Regions from separate parts of the Homo sapiens genome. Here region 1 is linked to region 2. Evidence: fine-mapped expression QTL. A gene starts in region 2. The other region holds a variant in brackets. All regions are shown on one strand. Distances are between the middles of the regions.

The links.
Region 1: its variant is fine-mapped to the expression of BCAS1 in whole blood (TOPMed, PIP 0.94).

What each region holds. Positions count from the first base shown.
Region 1 is chr20:54,037,876-54,046,253 of GRCh38, reverse strand. The region is part of intron 3 of BCAS1 (brain enriched myelin associated protein 1); the gene reads left to right. Among named protein-coding and RNA genes, the nearest start is that of MIR4756, 26 kb to the left of the region's middle. The variant G/T (reference allele first, on the strand shown) is at 3,335.
Region 2 is chr20:54,066,008-54,074,385 of GRCh38, reverse strand. It overlaps BCAS1 (brain enriched myelin associated protein 1), which reads left to right and starts at 3,792. Exons shown (of 13, transcript NM_001366298.2): 1 at 3,792-3,953. MIR4756 (microRNA 4756) reads left to right here and starts at 5,901; the gene lies at 5,901-5,978. RefSeq lists an enhancer at 4,199-5,073.

The sequences.
Region 1 (8,378 bases), 28 kb after region 2:
CCGGCCCTGAATTCTTAATGCATGGAATCATGACCTAATAAAATGGTGGTTAAGTCAATCATTTTGGGGATGCTTGTTACACAGCCATAGATAACTGAAATAACTATTAGTATGCATTTTAATTCTTTGTATTTTATTTTTACATGCATATATACTTACATACATACCAATTAACATATATGAATAAATGCAATCATATTTTCTGTTATTGTTGTTTTGGTGAAACCTGTCTTTTTCTTTTTCTTATTGGCTTCTTCCTCATCTCACATCTTCCCTACCCCCTCCAAGGACACCCAAGCTAACAACCTAATATTTCTTCTTTCATATTTTTCTCTTTGTTCTATACTTTGTAAAAGACAAATCTGAGACACAATAAAATTTCAAAGAGTGTATCTGAATAGAGGCAATTCATTAATTTGAGAAAAGAAAACCAAAAGGGAATTAGTGTTTTGATGACAAAGCATTACATGCCAGAATTAAGGGAAAATGCAGAGGCATAATATAAAATGTGTTTGATGTGTTACAATTACACAGTTGCCTTATTTGATCATCTCATTGGAAGGTACCCAGTTATATAATTTTAAGTTTGTTGACTGTTTCTGATTGGTTGAGCTCAAGTTCTGTTTTTCTTTAGCATAGGCATTTACAAGAAACAGTTCGAGTTGTTTTGCTTATGTCTGCAAATCAAGCAAGGTTTAGCTCATTTATGTGGTCTAACAGGCTTTGTCCGCTCAGGGATTCTTCAGGTCTGGTCTTTATTTTAATTTACTTTAACTAGCCCCATACAGACATTTCCCAGCACATCCATTAATAGTGTTTGTTTTTTTTTAATTGTAATAATCTTCCCCATCTCAACTCCAAATTCAACTGGTATAACTTTAATTCATTTTTTTTAAAGCTACAATGTACTTCAAGGTATAGACATACTATAATTCATTCAGCCATTATGCTAATTTTGGGCATTCAGTTTTTTTCTTATTTTTCTCTGACAATTTTTACCTGGGCGTAAGTTTTTTGTTTTGTTTTGTTTTTTTTTTTTTTTTGAGATGAGGTCTTGCTCTGTCACCCAGCTGGAGTGCAATGGCATGATCATCACTCACTGCAGCCTTGACCTCCAGGGCTCAAGGAATCCTCTTGCCTCAGCCTCCTGTGTAGCTGGGATCACAGGCACACACCACCACACCTGGCTAATTTTTTAGTTTTTTTGTAAAGATGAGGTCTCCCTTTGTTATCCAGGCTGGTCTCAAACTCCTGGGCTCAAGTGACTGTCCCTCCTTGGCCTCCCACATTGCTGGGATTAGAGGCACGAGTCACAGCACTCCTCTGGCATAAGTATTTTTAAACTCGTAATGTTTATCCAATATTAAAAGTTATTTGGAATACACTTAGAAAATTTCTTTTTTTCTTTTTTTTTTTGAGACAGAGTCTCCTTCCGCTGCCCAAGCTGGAGTGCAGTGGTATGATCTCAGCTCACTGCAACCTCCGCCTCCTGGGTTCAAGCGATTGTCATGCCTCAGCCTCCCTAGTAGCTGAGATTACAGGCGCGTGCCACCGCATCTGGCTAATTTTTGTATTTTTAGTAGAGATGGGGTTGCACTGTGTTGGCCAGGCTGGTCTCAAACTCCTGACCTCAGGTGATCTGCCCACCTTGGCCTCCCAAAGTGCTGGGATTATAGGCATGAGCCACCGCGCCCGGCCGGAAAATTTCTTCTTCACATTTTTCAAAAATAAAACATTGGCATTTCTGTTTTAAATTTTTAAGGACTTTTTTGTACTTACCATGACAGATACTCTGGACACAACTTACTGTTCCATGACTCATACAGTCTGATTTTAACTGTCATGCAACTGCTGTTGAGTAATATGCAACTTTCTCTTTGCCTCTTTGGATGGAGAAGAAAACAAGGCAGCACAGTTGGGCTCCAAAGATAAAAACATGGGCAGGGTTTCAAGATCACTCATCTCTGTCTTGGAGGATAGACCAAGAGAGATAGGACAGACCAAGAGACAACATGAAAAAAACATGAAAAGAGAAACAGCATTGAGAAATAACAACAGCTGCACTCAATTCTTTTCCTCAAGGTGCATTTTAACCAGATCTTGAAATAGAATAAACACACCTACAATTCTAATCCTAGAGTGGACATTTTTTTAAAATCAGCTTTTCATATCCTTTTACCACACCAAAAAGAACTTACCAACAATTTTCATTTAACAAAAATAAAAATAATCAGCGAGATCAAAGAAATGGTAAGGTGCGCTTCAAGTTTCTGGAAGTTTATCAATAAAAGCAGCATACTGTATTAGTGGGTAGGATCCATTATATGCAAAGCATACCCCAAAGAGCAAATGTTTCTGGGAACAAGAACTGAAAAATGTAAGCAGAGCCTGCCTCCTTGTGTGGGTGCAATAGCAGTGCCCAATAGCAGTGACTCGCAGAGTTGTCCCTGGGCCAGCAGCATCACATCACCTGGGTACCGGTTAGATGTGCAGTTTCTGTAGCCGGAGCCCAGACCTCCTGAGTCAGAAACACCCCCTTCCCTGGGGGTGGGGCCCAGCTATCTGTTCCCACAACCCCTCCCGGGTATTCTTGCACTAGCTCAAGTCTGAGGACCATGTAAGAACTGGCTCAAGGCTCTGAATGAAATGGAGTTTGCAGGGAACTGGAAAGCGTCCTTGTTTATAGGGCTCCACACAGCTTCAAGGATGGCTGCCCTGGGAAACCCTGAGCCAATAATAAGATATTTCAATAACAGCCTGATTTTAGGACTTTTAAATGAAATTTCCCAATTCAAAAAAATATAAACACTGTGTTGGCCAAACCATCAGCAGACCTCATAGTTGGCAACCTCCGATAGTGTGAGGTTTATTTTTTTCCCTACCTCAAATCCCTCTAAAAAGATGGCTATAAAAAAAATCATCGTCATCATCATCATCATCATCATCATCATCATCAAGTTATCATAGCTTCAAGCAATGAAACATTGAAATCCTGTAACCAATTTCAGCTGTGCTTGCAGATTTGTGGGCTCTCCAGGCATCCTGCCCGTCACAATGTGCATCCCATCTGTGTTTTCCACAGAGAGGGACAGTGGTGGGATGTTACCAGTGGCTGGCCCCCTTTGCAGCTTTCTGTCACGTAGTCTTAAGCCAGTAAGTTGGCTATGTGGTTAATTCATGAGTCCTCTTAAAAATGCCTTCTGAGAGTTACATCAGCTCCAGGTGATATAAAAAGAAAAGCTGGATTTTCTGAATTTGCCAAGCAGAGGCTCAGACTCTGCAACATGGAGATGTCCCTAAGGCCATGACACTCTCAGCAAGCAGGGCCCACCTG[G/T]CCTATCAGCCCCTCCATTCAAAGCTGATGCTCATTGGTTAGAACCTGCCTCGCTGCTGGGCCAGCCCTAGGCAAATTGGGAAATAGGTCAAGTGTTCAGTCCACTTTGAATCCCACCTCTCATTTCTAGTTCCCTACTTTCATTTTTTCTTTTCATTATTTCTTCATTTCTTAATGGATGGGGTAGGTGCATACACATAGCAAACATTCTGAGCGATATACATAATAAGATAAGGCAGAGAAAAAATCCCCACCCTAACTCTGATGGCTCCCCAAGCCCCATCCCAAATTTCCTTCCTTAGAAGTAAATACTTTACAGTTTCTTATATCCAGAGGTATCCCAGGCATGTCTATTTATAAGTTGTCTCCTCAACCTCCCGACACCATTTTTTAAAAACAAATGGAAACATACTGTACGTGCTGTTGGGCACAGCTTTTTCTTTCCTTACTAAAATTCCTTGGGGAATTTTAATGCCTGTGGAATATTTCATTGTAGGGACATATGATTATTTATTTTTTTAAACTTTTATCTAGGTTCAGATTACATGTGCAGGTTTGTTATAAGGTAAACTCATGTCATGGGGGTTTGTTGTACAGATTATTTTTTCACCCGGGTACTAAGCCTAGTACCCACTAGTTATTTTTTCTGATCGACTTCCTCCTCCCACCCTCAAGTAGGCTCAGTGCCTGTCATTCCCCTCTTTGTGTCCCTGTGTCCTCAAGGACATATGATAATTTATTTAACCAGGTTTCTACTAATAAGCGTTTAGGTCATTTCCAGTTTTTTGCCACAACTACAGTAGTCCAGCAAATAGTTCCATACGTAAGCCTTTGTACCCCTATGCAATTTTATTTCTAGGATAACATTTTAGAAGTGGAAGTTAGACTTACAGTGTTTGTGAAATTTTAAGTATTAATAGATATTACTGAGCTATTTTCCAAAGAAGTGGCCAAATTACACTCCCACCGACGATCTATATGGCTGTTCTTTTTTTTTTTTTTTTTTTTTTGGGGGAGACAGAGTCTCACTCTGAACTCTGTTGCCCAGGTTAGAGTGCAGTGGCACAATCTCGGCTCACTGCAACCTCTGCCTCCCAGGTTCAAATGATTCTCCTGCCACCGCCTCCCAAGTAGCTGAGATTACAGGCGCCCGCCACTACGCCCAGCTATTTTTTGGTGTTTTGTTTTGTTTTGTTTTTTAGCAGAGACAGTGTTTCACCATGTTGGCCAGGCTGGTCTTGAACTCCTTACCTCATGATTTGCCCACCTCGGCCTCCCAAAGTGCTAGGATTACAGGCGTTAAGCCACCGTACCCAGCCACAGCTGCTCTTTTTTTATACGCTTTCCACTGGGGTCATCAATTGTCTCCTTTTTAACCAATTTGGCAAGGGAAAGCCAAGTGTCATAATTTTATTGTGCTTTTATTTTACTATTTATGAGGCCAAACATCTTTTCTTCTGCTTAAAAGCTGGCTGCATGTCTTTTCCTGTGAACTCTTCACTCCTATTTGTTGTCTGTTTCCTACCCCCACCCCTTGGTGCTGTGTTGCTGTTTATTTATCTAATTCTTCTTTTTACAAATTGAGGTACAATTCACCTACCATAAAATTCACCTTTTAGAGTGACAATTCCGTGATTTTAAGGATATTTGCACCATGTGTGCAATCGTTCCACGTCTAATTCCAGAACATCGTCATTACTCCAAAACAAAACTCCCTACCCTTTAGCGCTGAGTTTTTTCCCTATTCCCAGCCACTGGCAACCACTAATCTGTTTTCTGCCTCTATGGATTTGCCTATTCTAGACACTTTATATAAATGGAATCATACAATATTTTGCTTTTTGTGTCTGGCGTCTTTCACTTAGTACCATGCTTCCAAGTATAAAGCATGATATAACATGGATCGGTGCTTTGTTTCTTCTTATGGCTGATTAATACTCTATTATATGCAAATGCTAGATTTCCTTTTTCCAATTGATGGATATTTGGGTTGTTTCCACTTTTCAGCTATTATGAAAATGCTGCTATGGACATTTGTGTACAAGTTTTTGTGTGGCCATATGTTTTCATTTTCTTGCTTACCTAGGAATGGAATTGCTGGGTCTTAGGGTAACTCCATGTTTAACTTTTCCAGGAACTGTTAAACTGCTTTCCAAAGCAGCTGCACCATGTCACATTCCTACCAGCAATGCATGAGCATTCCGATTTTTTCACATCTTCCCTACCACTGGTTATTGTCTCTCTGATTATGGCCATCCTCGTGGGTGTGAAGACGTATCATGCTGTGGCTTTGACTGCACTTCCCTAATGAGATGACATTAGGCATCTTTTTATGAGTTCCTTGGCCATTAGTATATCTGCTCCAAAGAAAACACTATCATCCTGATTTGGCTGCTTTGCTGCACCCTGAGCCTCTTGTCTCTGTTTCCTGGCTAATTTTTCCAGAGTCTCAAAGTAATAATAGTCACCCTTTGGCAATCTTCTATGTGTCCTGAACTCAACCTGCCCCACAACCGTATCTCCACAGCTGACCCGTGGTGTCCTAACAACTGAAGCCACTGATAGAATAATAGGCCACCTCCCCTGGTAAGCTGCTTACCACTTAAAAGGTGCTTGAGACACTCATTGCTGCTGGAAATGTGAATCTGTAGAGCCTTTTTAAGAAAATAATATGGCAGTGTCTGTTTTTCAAAACTAAATGCATATTGATTTGAGGGTAACACTTCTACATCTGTGCCTCTATTCTATAGAAATATAGCACCAGTTTAGGATTTTTGAACACGAAAGTTTATTCCACTATAGTGGAAATGGAAAAAACAATGTGGAAACTACCAGGATATTCATTGATTAGGCAATGGTTTAAATATCTTTTGGTATATCCATACTGAGGAATATTATGCAGCTATTTTAGAAGATAAGATAGCTTTGGAGCTATTGACTGTGAAGACCAACTATAATGTACAAAAGTCATCAGAAAATATGTCTAATGTGATCCAATTTCTATAAAAACAACAAGGACAGATACAGTCCCTGTATATGTGTATCTGGGATGCTTATACGTGTTTGTGTGAGTATAAACAAAGTTCAATATGCCACATCAGGTTGCAGATGTTATTTATCTGGCAATGAGGGTGGAGGATAGAGACAGGAAAAACAAAGGGTTCAGAGAGATTAATTATTTTGGTTGTAAACACGGGTTAAATGTACATTATTATCAGATTTATAAAAAAAATCAAATGAAACATCTGATTTGTCTTTAAATGAAAATATATGCTCATGTTGGAGCAAAGGCTGGTTTTGCATTTGAATGAGCTTTGCATATTCCAGAGTTTTGTAGCACATGAATGACAGGAAATATATGATTAAAGAGAAGAGTGGAAATCTTGAGTGTCACTGTCAGTCTTGCCCCACAGTATCTGATCATCACTGTTGCTTTTAGAGGATGTTTTCTGAAGAGCATGGGGGTAGTAGTACCTTTGCCTACATTCCTTTGGAATCCAGCATTTCCATCACTAAATGTCCAGACATGTTGTATAAAGCTGATAGTCAAGAATTCTACCATGATGTTCCAAAATCCCATCCTTTTCTTTTATTTATGCTAGAATTTCTTGGCAAAGACATTCTGGCTTTTTAATGTACAGATGAAAAGCATGAAATGCGATCATTCAGTGAAAGTTTCAAATCTAATCTAACGTCTTCCTCCAAGTCATAAGTATCTGCCACGTGTACCCTGACTTTACGACCTTTAAAACAACAAATGCATTTGCACAACATAGAAAGCCGCAGTTGTTTGAAGTGTCATTTGACTCTTGCAGCATGACCATTGAAGGGTCATTTTTGCATAATTTTTTGAGGTCTTCATAAAGTTTTGAGTTTTCCCAAAGGCCTAACATAATCTTTTGATATTCTAATATAACTCTTTTGAAGAACTTACTGTGTTGTGTTGTCCACTTTTCCTTCTTCGGTGATCTGTGTTAACTTTGCCAGATCCTTGTCCAACCACGGTCATGTGTGTGATCTGAGCAGCTCACCAATGTTACAAGACTCTATAAACCCCTGCATCTTTTGCAAGATGTACAATTTCCCTTTGCAATTAGTGTGTATATGTCCACTTTATCCTGAATCCTGACAGATCAGGATATTGATGCATAGGACGGTGTTGCTTGCATAGGAAGAGATGATTCGGCGGTGAATAATGTTCATACATGGACACTTTGTAAATAAAATTATAATGATAGTTCCTGCTTTCCCCTTTAAACTGAAAGCTTGGAGGATTTGGATAATGTATTGTCAGAAAAAGAAATTTCATCCAGCACAACATTAGTCTCTTCTCAGAGACTCAGTTTCCCAACCTGTTCATTGGTGTGCCCTACTACAGTTACAATCATGGTCCTTTGTGGAGTGTTTGCTAGGCTGTGCCCCAAGCTCTGTGCTTGCTGCTTCACCCATGTTTCCTGGCTTAATCCTAGTGTCTAGCACTATGGGAACTGGAATCCAGCTGTAAGCAGAGCAGACCAAGTCCGGGTCCACTTGGGGCTTACAGGTCGTGGAGAGGAAACAAGTGAAGAAGAAATTAATGGGATCATTTCAGAGAGTGATGAATCCTCTGTGGAGTCTAGAGAATAAACAGGAGTAAGCAGGAGGGGTTACTTCAGATGGAGGAGTCAGGGAAGGCCTGACATAACCTAAGTCTTGAATGATAAGAAGGTAACCATAGGAAGATCTTAGCGAAAATATTTCCAGATTGAAAGAATAACTAGTGGTGAGGGCTGCAGGTGGAAACATGTTGGTATGTTGAGAGGTGTGAGGAAAAACATAGTACGAGCTGAAGTTCTGGAGGGTGTGGCCCATAGTAGAGAGTTTGGATTTTGTTTTAATTTTGTGAGGCCCTTCTTTGGATGGTTTTATGCAAATGAATGACATAACCTAATTTTTATTTAAAACCAAAAATATATAGATATCAATGTTTCCCAGATGTGAGAAAACAGGGTTTTTTTCCCCCTCTTGTACATAGTTTTTTCTTGGGTATCCACTAATTCTATTA
Region 2 (8,378 bases):
TATATTTACTATTCATTAAGTAGACATGGATCATCATAAAGGTTTTCTTCCTTGTCATCTTCACATTGCATAGGCTGAGGAAGAGGAGGAAGAAGAGGGGTTGGTCCTGTTGTCTCAGGGGTGGCAGAAGAAGGGAAAAAATCCATGTCTAAGTGGACTCATGCAGTTCAAACCCTTGTGGTTCAAGGGTCAGTTGTAGTGTTATCTTTGAACTTGGGTTGAGTAAGTAAAATCTGATGAGACAATGAAGCATAGTCATGAGATACAAGCAATATGCAAGTCTACTGTTCATTGCCACCTATTCACATATAACATCCATGATGCCCATGAGCAGAGAATGCCAGTGAGTTCATGACTATTCAGTAAGCCTCAAAGCAAGTAAAACACATGTGAGTTACAGCTGCAATTGAGTATGTGGAGGCACTGACACCCCAAGAGTCCAGGCTTTCCACGCAAATCAGAAATTATCTTCAATACAGAAAAAAGGCAGCACATTCTAAGAAACACAAACAACAAAAGAATCCTATCCTAGCCTTTCTTACCCAGGTTACCTCCCTGTAAGGGCCAACCACTTGTGCTGAAAATGATAACATAGCAAGACAGAAATATAGGGCAGCTTAGAGTTTCTTTTTCTTTTGATTTTTCCTTATTCATCAATAAACTGAAGATAGAGAGCATTAGTAGAATGGGTGAGTATCCAGAGGTAGAGTAAAAACAGTTGAATGATGACTTCTATGCAGCGTTTACACTGTTTTAGTGAGAACAGACTACGGGGGCCCCGTAACTAACTACAAAATACAAGTCGTATGATTTTGGTGATTCTGCCCTCGAGTTCATTGCATTTCAAACCAGCATGGCTTGATCTAAAGACGGATGGCAAAACTCACGCTGATCACTTACATTTTTATTTTTTCTTCCCTTAGAATGACTTCAAATAATAAGTAAAATACATGACAGGTAGAGAAAGAGACCAGGAAGGAGAGAAAACAGCTTTATGTTTCATACCTTTAACGGTACTTTTCCCTGCTTTTAGAACAAAGGGCTCATCGTTTTTGTTTTGCACTGGGTTCAGCAGATTATGTAGCCGGTCCTGCCTCATCACCACTCCTGACTACACCAGCTGATGCTTGGTGATGGTCTACAGTTTGCCAGACCCTTCATCACCACTCCTGACTACACCAGCTGATGCTTGGTGATGGTCTACAGTTTGCCAGACCCTTCATCACCACTCCTGACTACACCAGCTGATGCTTGGTGATGGTCTACAGTTTGCCAGACCCTTCATCACCACTCCTGACTACACCAGCTGATCCTTGGTAATGATCTACAGTTTGCCAGATCCTTCATCACCACTCCTGACTACACCAGCTGATGCTTGGTGATGGTCTACAGTTTGCCAGACCCTTCATCACCACTCCTGACTACACCAGCTGATCCTTGGTGATGATCTACAGTTTGCCAGATCCTTCATCACCACTCCTGACTACACCAGCTGATGCTTGATGATGGTCTACAGTTTGCCAGACCCTTCATCACCACTCCTGACTACACCAGCTGATCCTTGGTGATGATCTACAGTTTGCCAGATCCTTCATCACCACTCCTGACTACACCAGCTGATCTTTGGTGATGGTCTACAGTTTGCCAGACCCTTCATCACCACTCCTGACTACACCAGCTGATCCTTGGTGATGGTCTACAGTTTGCCAGATCCTTCATCAACACCCTTGACTACACCAGCTGATGCTTGGTGATGGTCTACGTTTTGCCAGACACACTGCTGAGTGCCCCCACCTGAATGATTTTTCTTAATCTCCTAAATCACTCATATCCCTAAACCTTATGTTTTTCTTCTGTAAAATGGGAGCAAAAGATCTTAATTTCACTGTGGACATAAATGAAATGGACGGATAAACACAAAAGGCTTTGCAAAGACTAATGCCATCCAAATGGCAGTTACTGCCATGTATAATTTAAAAGAGAGCAAGACAATGGGGAGTGTTAGCTCACGCCTATAATCCCAGCACTTTGGGAGACTGAGGCGGGTGGATCACTTGAGGTCAGGAGTTCCAGACCAGCCTGGCCAACATGGAGAAACCCCACCTCTACTAAAAATACAAAAATTAGCCAGGCATGGTGGTGCACACCTGTAGTCCCAGCTACTTAGGAGGCTGAGGCAACAGAATTGCTTGAACCTGGGAGGCAGAGGTTGCAGTGAGCCGAGATAACACCACTGCACTCCAGTCTGGATGACAAAGCAAGACTCCGTCTTAAAAAAAAAAAAAAAAAGAATGAACAAGTCCAATCAGCCAGGAGTTGCAGAGTACCTACTCTATCATAGAGGGATCCCCATCCTCGTTTTGCAGGGTGCCAGGAGTTGGGGATACAAGAATAGATGCAAAATAAACACAAAGGAGCACACAGCTGAGGGGGCTGACAGAGACTTAGGGAAGTACAGTAGCTTGCTCATAATTCCACAGCCGATCAGTAAGAATCAAGATCCGAGCCCTTGTCTGTCTCAACCCAGGGCCAGAGCTCAAGCTCCTGAGCCTCCAGGCTTGGGTCAGCACAGAGCGTGTGCATGGCAGCTGCTTAATAATTGGGTTTACTACATTCCAGATTGACATGTACAGTGCTGAGCTGGAATCGACTTTACAACCCTAATTACGGTGTGCCTGGTTGTGTATTCAGCATTTATTTAAATAGTATTTTTTTTCTTAAATGTTGATTTCTGAAAGAGGCCTTCCCCAGCTCTCTCTATTTCTCTCCCTTAGCTGCCTTGGCTTTTCTTTTATAATGAGAATCACACCCTGTAATTCTATGTTTATATTTACAGGATTCTATGTCCAATGACACTGAGTGCAAGAAGGGTAGAGACCCAGCATCTTTTACTCACCTCTTTAAACTCTGGCTTATATATATAGCCTGGTGCTTGACAAGTATTCATGATAGGGGTTAAGCTGAGTATACTGTTGAATAAAACCACAATAATTATTGGTCGCAATTCTCTTGAATGTCTTCTCCAGAGCACTAAGTAGTGTAACTTATCAAGTTTCCTTTCTTGCATTGGCTGTTAGGAAGCTCAAAGCCATATCTGCAAACCCTTCATAGCAAGTCTGTAAATCAACAAGAGCATTTATTTTTGATCCTGTTCTCATTTGATGTTCCAAATTTTGTTCTTCAATCTTCTTTTGTTACATGTTATTTCATGCTCTCATAATCTATTGTATATGTCCTTGTAAGACACTTTAAACAACATCCTTGCTTGAATTAAATAAATTGCATAGCCTGTCGAATTTCTGGCCTGCAAAGAAAAAGAATGCCCTTTCCAACATCATGGTATGTCTCCAGAGCAATAAACCACCCTCAGGTTACCTGATTTCTGGTGTCCAAACCCCTTTGGGAATAAGGTTTACATGACTAGGGGTAGTTGAGTGGATGAGAAGCTATTTCCTTCCAATTAGGTGGTTAGGTGGTGGTGGAGGTGGTGTTCTGAAGTCAGCAGACAGAACTACAAAATCTCACAGAACGTGTTTTCCCTGCTCTGACCATGACCTACGGTTACTGGGGAAGGAAACTGCTTCCCCAGGTCAACCCGGCAGCCTCAGTAGGTGAGGGGCACTGGGTAGAATACTTGGGGTGCCAGGGAGGCATTAATGCGAGAGGAGTCAGGTGCTCAGTTTTTATTGGAGTTGGGAGGGCAGCCCCACATCAGGAAGAGAACCTGTTTCTGCAGGATGGTCCGGGGAGAAGGGAGGACTCCACCCAGGCTTGTGTTTGCCCTGCTCTGTGTATTCAGCCAGCAGGCTCTGCACAAGGAAGCAAAGTGCAGGGAGCCAGGCTCCACCGACAGCCAGGCACTGGGCAGCACGCACTGGAGACCCAGGACCCTGTGCAGGAGCAGCTCCGGGTGACACGAGGGGACTGAAGATACTCCCACAGGGGCTCAGCAGGTAACTGCTTTCAGATCCTTTAGGCATGGCTGGAGGGTTTGCTGTTTGTGGTAGACGGTGTCATATAGAGGCCAGGGGTCAGACAGGGTCAAGTTTGATCCCAGCTCTGCCTTCTGTTCACTGTGTGGCCTTGGATATGTGTAAGCCTCAGTTCCACTATCTGTGAAATGGACCCAAAGATAGCACTCATCTCAAAGTTTTTAGTTTTACAAGGAGCAAATGACAATGTGGTCAGTGTTAGGCGCATAGCCACATAAATAACTCCTATTTGGTGGAACTATTGAGGGTCATTTCAAGCACAGGACATGGGGAGAAGTCACTGGATGGAGGGATAGGCTGTGTGATTTGGGGATCCGTCAGGGCAAGAATGCCCCATAGCCGAGTGGAATCTGAGCCTTCACCTCAGGCATTGCCTAAAGAAGTGGGAGGACAAGAAAAAGGACTTGTGGAGTGCCTTTTGTGAATCTTATTTAACGCTCAAGACCACCCTATGAGGCAGCTGCTGATTCAAATCCTGGCTTCAGGACCCCTGCTGTTTACATCTCCCTCTGAACCAGTTTCCTGCCTGGAAGAGTCATTGCGATTAGAATGCGGGTGCGCTGCAGCCACACCGCCAGATGCCAGCCCCAGCTCCACCCTGGGCTGGCTGGGTGCCCTGGAGCAGGTTCCCTCAGCCCTCTGGGCCTCAGTTTCCTCATCTGTAAAGTGAACCTAATAACAGTACTGAGATCAAAGGGCTGAGAGGACTCTACTGCCCGTAAATACCTGTGCACTTAGTAACTCTTAGCTGTGGTTCTTGTTTTCGCTGTTACCATCGTCTCCATTTTACAACTAGGAACATGAAGCTGGGTGAAGAGGGAGCTGCATCTGGTTCCAGGTCTCATGGAAAGGATGCTGTGGAACTGGAGTCCAGTCGGGCCTGGGATGAGGGTGCAGCCAGTGAGACTCTCACCTTGGGCACGAAATGTAAGGGATGCCAAAAAACTCAGTCATGGAGATAAACGGTATGTTAACACAACATTTTTAAAAGTCAGAATTAATGGCAAGACACCCGTGATGAACAAACTATGAACATGTTACAGAAAGATAAGATCAGGAACAGCGGTAATTTTGATTTTCACAAATTTCATGTTAAAATACTATTCATCTCCATGGCTGAGCTTTTTGGTGTCCCTTACATTGTTCCCCCGGAGTCCAGGGCCTGATCCGCCTCAGCCTCCTGGGGATCCTGAGCTGATCACAGCAGCTTCAGGCCCTGGGTGTATATACTCAGGGTATGTAGAGGGTGCTTCCTCCTAAATAAAGACAACAGACGGGGCGGGGCATGCTAAAGTAGTTTCTCATTTAAGTGAGGGTGGGGGAACAAACCAATGTCCCAAATCACAGAAGATTCTTTTTTTCCAAAGAGTTCTGGAACCCAGAAGGGTTTTGTTTTTAGGAAAAAGGCATGAGCTTTGGGAAAAGCAATGGGCCCGTTAAAGCCCATGGATTCTGCCTGCTTTACCATGACAAGAGATGTGGAGGGAGAGGAATTGAAAAAGGCTTTGGGTTGGGGGCGGGGGTACCTTTGCACCTTGCAGGCTCATCTGTCCTGCTGGAGTATTAGATGTGACTTGATTGTCTCTGTGTCTGCAGCTTCTCTTCAAGCCAAGTGCCCTGCCCTGAAGCAGTTCAGGATTTGAGTGCCTGAGTCACGTGGACCCAGGTTCAAACCCCAGGTGTGCCTCCCCGTAGCTTTCTGACTGCTACTCTTGGGCAAGTAGGACTAGTAAGGTGCCTACCCTCATGGAGGTGACGTTCGTGAGATGAGGGGATGGCATTGCTCAGCCTTGGTTTCTTTATCTGTGCAATCAGGGAATAATGGGACTCTGCAAGGGAAAAGGAGACAATGTGTGTGAAGTGCCTGGCACCAGGGTCAGGGCAAGGGTGAAGCCAGTGAGCACCTGGGGGATAAAATGCAGGGAGGCGCTCACTCTCTGCTGCCGATTCTGCACCAGAGATGGTTGCCTTCCTATATTTTGTGTCCTGCTATGCTCACCCTGGTGCTGCCTGGCACATAGTAAGCCTCCAATTAAAATTACCTGCGATTATCATGCACTTAACAATGTTTGGTGCAATAATAAGACTATGAGAGCGAGCTCTAAGATTTTTAGGATTACCATCCGTTTGTGCAAACATAATTAAGTACTCCGAAAGCAAAACATCAATCACCAAGCAGCCCTAAAACATCCAAGGTGATTTTGATCAAGGCACCCCTGCCCCTGGACCCACAAAGTCCCATACCAGGAATCAGGGCTTGGGCAGTTCAGTGAGGACTGGATTTCAGTTCCCTGTGTCCCCTTGTACAGGAGGCAACCTGTAGCACTGTACCTGGCACTCCTGATAATAGCTGCCGTGTTCCTAGCACTGTGCGGGCACACACATGGAGCTGCAGGACTGTGGGGCAGGCAAAGCGGGGTTGTTCTTTCCTCCTGCAAGGTCTTTACTGATGTTGGGGGCAGAGGGCTGGTTCTGCTGGGTGTGCCAGCCTGGCCATGTTGGCGTCACCCTCAGCTGAGCAGTGAGGAGGGCCCCTGGGTTACCTACATTCCATTGCATTGATCGAAGGTGTTGCTTGTTTACTTGGTGACTAATTCTGTCACCATTCCACCCTTCAAAACCACCCCCCCTCCCATTCAACAGTCGTCTAGCTGCCTGCTGGTGATGAAGTTTCAGAAGTGCTTTCTCCAGGCCAGCTTGCATGGGGTTTGGCGTTTGGCCTGTTTCCAGGAGGAGGGCCTATTATTAATCTGTAACTACAAGGAGGCGACATGGACCATCAATCACTGTGTAAAAGAGGAGGGATTTGAGGGCAGCTTCCAGGAGGCCAATTCACTCATGGATCAGAACACAGAACTAACTCAATTATAACAATAATAAGATAAATGAATAATATTAGCAATAACTAACGTTTACTCACCTGAGTACTGCCAAGCCCTGGCGCTAAATCCTTACAGTGATTATCAGTGACCCTTCAATTGTTCAATCCTCACTTTATTTGATTTATTTATTTACTTATTGAGAGAGTTTCATTCTGTCGCTCAGGCTGGAGTGCAGCGGTGTGATCTCGGCTCACTGCAACCTCCGCTTCCTGGGTTCAAGCGATTCTCCTGCCTCAGCCTCCCAAGTAGCTGGGATTACAGGCATTGTGCCTCCACATCTGGCTAATTTTTGTATTTTTAGTAGAGACAGGGTTGCGCCATGTTGGCCAGGATGGTCTCAAACACCTGACCTCAAGTGATCCACCCACCTCAGCCTCCCAAACTGCTGGGATTACAGGCATGAGCCACAGCGCCCGGCCTAATCCTCACTTTAGATTGTACCATATATATTCCTTGCCTAGTTATAATTTTCTCATTGCAAGAATGAATATGCAGGAAATATTTTCTATTCCATGTTCTATTATATTACATATAAATATTTCATAAAACTATAACATCACTTATACAGCAGAAGAGACAGTAGAAAGTATGAAAATAGAAAAGTTAAAAGTCTAAACTCTGGACTTGAGTTTGCGAGGGTTAAGTCCTCATTCTCCCACTTACTAGAAGATGATCTGTATTAGTCAGCTTGGGCTGTGGTAACCAAAACACCACAGACTAGGTGGCTTAAACAACAGTCATTTTTGTTTTCTCATAGTTCTGGAGGCTGGAAGTCCAAGATCAAGGTTCTGGCCGATGCATTTCTGGTGAGACCACTCTTTCTGGCTAGCCAACAGCTGCCTTCTTGCTGTGTCCTCACACGGTTGAGAGAGAGACAGAGAGAGCTCTTTGGTGTCTCTTTTTATAATGACACTAATTCTATCAGATCAAGGTCCACCCTTCTGATTTCATTTAGCCTTGATTCCTTAGAGGCCACATTTCCAAATGCAGTCATATTGCACGTTAGGGCTTCAACACGAATCCAACACGAATTTTGGAAGGACACATTTCAATCCATAGCATGATCTTAAGTGAGGAGTTTAAGTTCCCTGGGCTCAGGTTCTGCATCTGTAAAATGGGGACAATAAAAATACCTGCCTCGGCCGGGCCCGGTGGCTCACGCCTGTAATCCCAGCACTTTGGGAGGCCAAGGCGGGCGGATCACGAGGTCAGGAGATCGAGACCATCCTGGCTAACACGGGGAAACCCCGTCTCTACCAAAAATACAAAAAATTAGCCGGGCGTGGTGGCAGGCGCCTGTAGTCCCAGCTACTCGGGAGACTGAGGCAGGAGAATGGTGTGAACCCGGGAGACGGAGCTTGCAGTGAGCCGAAATGGCGCCACTGCACTCCAGCCTGGGCGACAGAGCCAGACTTCGCCTCAAAAAAAAAAAAAGAAAAAAAATACCTGCCTCATCGGGTTCTGATAAGGAAGCTGTGAGTTAACACAGAGAAGCATTCAGAGC